Regions from separate parts of the Homo sapiens genome. Here region 1 is linked to region 2. Evidence: fine-mapped expression QTL. A gene starts in region 2. The other region holds a variant in brackets. All regions are shown on one strand. Distances are from middle to middle.

Region 1 (2,815 bases), 230 kb before region 2:
TAAGGAAAGCTCCTCGCTCCCTTCTTTATGGGAGCAATTTATCAGCCTTATCAACCATTTTACATAGAGTTAAAAATACTCCAGCTACAAATTACAATCTAAAAACAGCTTGGAGAACACAAAACCTATGATTTATAGAATGACACATTTAAATAAACCTTAATAAAGTTCTTAAACAGCTGCAAAGGGCTTTCTCTGCTCTTTCTGCTCGACCACTGGCTGAGCTCCTTGTTCAAATAACAGGATGAACTTACTACCTCTTTGGAGATGTGTATCCCCCTTTTCCTATGTGTTGCAGAGGAAACCTATCTAATGACCTTTTGGGGGCCTTAAAAAACATTTGTCATTTAAAGAAAACACATTGTGGAATAAATATGAGGTGCTCAGCCTCAGCACATCTGTTATTGATTTGTGTAATTAGTAAAAACCCGCTCGCAGCATCCAGGAGGAGTGACCCAGGCCTGAGCACTCGTCCAGTCCTGGACTTTCCCCAGAGCACATCTGGAAGGTGAGGGGGAGCAGAGCTACCATGCCAGGTGGAGACGGGCTCACAGGTAACCAAATCCATGAAGTCATCAAAGCCTTAAGATTAGTCGCAGTCTTTCACGTCACTTTCCAAACTTTTTGTTGCTTTATTATACTGTTTGACAGAACTAAAGTTTTTCCAGCCTTGACAAGATAATTGCTTCCATATCACAGTAGAATTGAAGAAAAAAAAAATACACAGCCCTGTATCTCACTGACAATGATAAATTGTCATCAGATAATATCATCTCACAAGTACACAGTACCAGTAGTTGCATAATTTTAAGCATGAATTTTCTAAATAGGACTTCAACCAATTTTTTTTATTTGGCTGTATCCTTGGTAGGGGACAGTTCCTCTTTACGAAAAGTCCTGAAGGCATAGGGTGCTTTTAAAATAAGTTACAGGTATAAATTGTGAATCCAAACCCACAGTGGATGCCACAAAACTCATGTGGGTTTCAATAATAGATTGGGATAAGGCATGTCCTTAAAAAGAATCCATGATTCAGTTTAGAGACCTAGTCTCCTTTATCCAAACCTCTCTGTTCCAGAAATCTGGCTGGAAATCTCATTAGAACAAATTATATTTAATTTGTTTCTCAGTGGCAGTTGAGTTGGAGCGTTTGCCAGCAGAAGGTGTCCTCAAGCTTCCAGATGATTCTACAAACAGTTCGCCTAGGGACAGGCCTGTCCCTCCCACAGCTCTAAGCTATGACACACCCCGCAAGTCATGAGGTCTCTTTCAATAGAGAGCTCATTTCCTCCACATAGTCATATTGAACTGAGTGTTTCTGGATATTTCTCCTTTAGATTCCAAATAAAGCAAACATTTTCTGATTAGGGGTTGAGGGAAGACAGTATTTTT[A/T]AAAAAAAAAAGGATATGGCCATTAGCTTTTCCAAATTTATGACAACCCAAGAGGTCACTTATCATCAGGTAGAGTAGGCAGAGCGCTGAAGTGGGAGCCAGGAGACTTGGTTCCGGTCCTAGCCTTGCCTACCGCTGATCCTCAGCTCCTGCAGGATCAGGATCCTCCTCTGTAAAACGAGGGACTGGACTCAATGTCCCTGAAATTCTCTGCCAGAGTAAAGATTCTAGGTTCAACAAGATACATACTTTTTGTTCTTTGTTCCCGCTGCTTCTCCCAGGAAATTCCACCCAACATAGGAAACAAAAGGGAGTCTGGTCCGCGGGTTCTTTTCACTGTACATCTCAAGCCAATCACAACATAAGCAACGTACTGAAGTTAACCAGAGGAAAGTCCATAAACCAACGACAACCCAGACTACATCACATCACCATCCATCACAGATGTCCTAAGTGCCACCATCCCACAGGCAGTAATGCTTCCACCCATTGGCCTTCTTGAAGCCTTGCACACCACAGCTGGATTTGCCTACACATGTGCCCCAGCCCACCTACCAGGATGGGGCATTGGCTGGAATCTGCTGGAGCTCTCATCAGATAATAATTGCCTGGATAAAATCCACCAGGCCCCAAAGGCAGACTGATGTAGTAAAGAAACAGCACATGTCACTTCATTAAATAATTAAGCTGGTGTTTTAGAAAGTCAACATTGTGTCTTAAAAAACACAATCTGTTTACATTTGGTCAGATGTTTTCAGCTGAAGAAAGGATTACTTCCAAACAATCTGTTGAGAGGTACACGGAAGAATATTTAGGCGCTTATGAATCATGCTGTGATTTGACAGGGTTGGCCCCAAGACATGGCTTATCCATAGTAAATTTATTCCAAAAGAAATTTTTGGTAGAGAAATAAAAGAAAGGAGATTATGGGATTTTTCAACATTTGTTATGCATTTATGAAAATAAAATCTTTCCCAGACTGTAGGTTCCTTGAGGGTAGGAACAGCATCCCTTTGATTCACTCTGTTGTTCCTGGGGGGCCATCAGAGCACCTGGCCCTAAATTGGCACCCAGTTTATTGTTGGTAAATGAGCAAGCATTCAGACCACAGGTTCTGCATTGGACAATATGTGTGAGAGTCTCACTGCTGTCAGGACTGGACAGAGAAAGTGATGGAAGATTAGGCCTACCCAGGAATGGCCTCTAAAGAGATGCTGGCTATTACCAAATCTGCCAGGCCTTGGAGTTATTACTACTGGCTCCATTTCACTATGGAGCTTTCAATCCTGTTAAAGCAGTTTAGGAGAGGGGTGGCAGGGAGTGGGAAGACCTCAGACAGCTGACTTTCTTTAAAAGACTGGAAGTAAGTGGCTATCTAAGGGGCTTTAGGGGCTAAGAAAGTCTCATCACCCAACACATGGTG
Region 2 (2,815 bases):
TTTTAGATGGTTAGTTAACTCTTTTCCTACTAAATGAAAATATTCAATATGCCACATATGAAAAAAATAAAATTCTCCCACCCACAAAAAAATCCTCCAGGGGCACAAAAAAAATCATTTGTTCCCTCATTTTTAAATATTTCTGCATGATGAGACAATATAAAGGCACAATATAGGTTAAAATAAATCACTCTGTGGTTTCTCAAAAAAAGTGAAAACAGATCCACCATATGATCCAGCAATCCCACTTCTGGGAATACATCCAAAAGAAAGGAAATAAGTACCTTGAAGAGATATCTGTACTCCCCTGTTTATTGCAGCACTATTCACAATAGCCAAGATATGGAAGCAATAATATTTCTTCTTGAGGAATAAAATTTTTAAATGTGGTATTTATATACAATGGAATATTATTCAGCCATGAAAAAGAATAAAACTCTATCATTTGCAGCAACATGGATGGAACTGGAGGATATTATGTTAAGCAAAATAAGCCAGGCACAGAAAGACAAATATCACATATCCTCTGTCATATGTGGGAGCTAAAAAAGTTGATCTCATGAAGGTAGAGAGGGAGAATGGTGGTTACCAGAGGTTAGGAAGGGGAAGAGGAAGAAGGGGGTGAAGGTAGGCTGGTTAATGGGTACAAACATACAGTCAGATAGAAGGAACAGGTTCTAGTATTTGATAACACGGTAGTATGACAATAGATAATGATAATTTATTTTTTATTTATAATAAACGATATAGATATAAACGATAAAATAAACGATATAGATAATGATAATTTATTGTATCTCAAAATAGCTAGCAGATTTGGAATGTTCCCAACACAAAGAAATGGTAAATGTTTGAGGTGATATATATGCTAATTACACATCGTATGCATATACCAAAATATCACATGTACCCCATAAATATGTGCAGTTATTACATATCACATAAAAAATAAAAAATACATTTAAAAAAATCAAAACTGAAATCACTCTGAGTTTACATTTTGTAGTAAAGGCCAGCATGGAGCAACAGCTGAGTAAAAGGGGATACTTCATGGGCACAGGTGTTGGTAATCCCACAAGAAAACCTGTGTTTCCTCATTTACTTTCTAACAAGACTTCAGCTTCCAATTAATGTTTTTCACCAGTTTTCTTTTCTTCAAAACAGCTAATTGTTAACCAGGGACCTGAGACACTCTCTTGCCTATAAACAAAACAACTAGAAGGATACCTTTTTCTGTTCAGACAAATTTTAGCACTAAAAACATAACCCTCAAACCTCAGAGGGATAGCTCAGTGCAAACTGTTCATGTCTAAAGCATAAATTGACCATAAACAATATATTGAATAGGTGCACTGTATACAAACCCCGTGAAAAAAATAAAACCAACTACTACCAAAGGAAGTGACAAAGACCTACAAACCAAGAAGAAATGTACCTTTATGCTACTATCATTGGTCATTTAATAGGCATGCTAACAGAGTAAAAAATAGACATTTCAAACAACAAAAAAGAAAATGTCACATCTCCCATTTCCAACTAACTCCCCCAAATTTATTTTTTAGCAAAAGGGGAATAATAAAGAATATTTGTGAAACCTTAGTCACCAAGATGAAAACAGCAAAACAAAATAGGGATCTGGAGAAAAGAAACAGATCGTTCCAACCAGCCCACAGCTAAATTTCCACTTCATCTCACTAACCATTGAATGCTACCCATCTACTCACCTCAACCCAGACTTAATCCTCTCCCCCAAAAGGAAGATTTCTCAGCAGTGCAGGAAGATCAAACAGGTATCCATTCCGTGACCATGCCAAGGAGAAAAGCAAGGCTACTCTGAAAGCTTGAGGGATGATACAGAAAACAAACTGGGTCTCTAGGGGGCATTCTCAAAAACCTGAGATCAACTCCTGGAAAAACACTCTTGACCACTTACCACCACCGGAAGCTGCTAGATGGCAATCAGAATCAGCATCTCATCAGAAGAAGAGGAAGACCTTACAAGAAAGCAGCTTCACTGTCAGTGAGGAATTGAGGGAGAAAAGCACTCCTTGGAAAAATGCTGAAAGCCCTGAAGAGCCTCTCCTCCCCTAGTTGCCTGCTCCTGCTGACAGGACAGAACTGGTTAATCTTGGGGAAACAAAAGGAAACTCCCAAGAGGCTGGCTTCTGAGGATGGCTTCCTCTGTGGGAATCAAGAATTCAGGAGGATGAAAATGAACAATGGAAGGGGACACCGGCTACCAGGCCTACTTACCAAACTTTTACCAGCCCTTGACTGAGGAAGATAAGCAAATCTGTTTGCAGTTCCCACCTGCTTTTGCAGAGATGAAAGAATCAGCAGTGGGTTTTTGTCACTTTTTTTTTTTTTTTTTTTTTTTTTTTACAGGGGAAGTTCAGCTCTCTTATGGATGAAAGCTAAGCATACTCAAGTGACATTTAGTAGGCAAAGCAATGACACTTCTTTCCCAACATCCTTAATTTCAGCACAGAGGATGCAAACATTAACCCTGATGGTACCAAAGAACAAATGCACATAGGAAATGGATTTACATCTTTTAGTTTGGAATTGCTTTTAAGGGGATTCTGGTTGTTAAAGCGGGATTAGATGAAAATAAAATATTTTGGTGCATATCTATTTTTAAAAGGAAAAATATGGCTTCTTTTAAATATGCCTAAAGCCATCTAGGAATTTTCCAGAAGTTGCATCAGATTTGCCAGTTAAGTACTGAAATCAAATAGATTTTAATCATGTCTCTATAACCAGAGCAAGCTAATCCCCTGCGCACCATCAACTCCACTCTCCTGGAACATCCTCA

What was found. PIP is the estimated chance that this variant, and not a neighbour inherited with it, causes the effect. A credible set is the group of variants that fine-mapping cannot tell apart.
Region 1: its variant is the best candidate, but not a certain one, in a credible set for the expression of ATP8B4 in whole blood (INTERVAL, PIP 0.75).

Annotation. Positions count from the first base shown.
Region 1 is chr15:49,887,720-49,890,534 of GRCh38, forward strand. The region is part of intron 23 of ATP8B4 (ATPase phospholipid transporting 8B4 (putative)); the gene reads right to left. Among named protein-coding and RNA genes, the nearest start is that of ATP8B4, 230 kb to the right of the region's middle. The variant A/T (reference allele first, on the strand shown) is at 1,393.
Region 2 is chr15:50,117,399-50,120,213 of GRCh38, forward strand. It overlaps ATP8B4 (ATPase phospholipid transporting 8B4 (putative)), which reads right to left and starts at 1,835. Exons shown (of 28, transcript NM_024837.4): 1 at 1,725-1,835.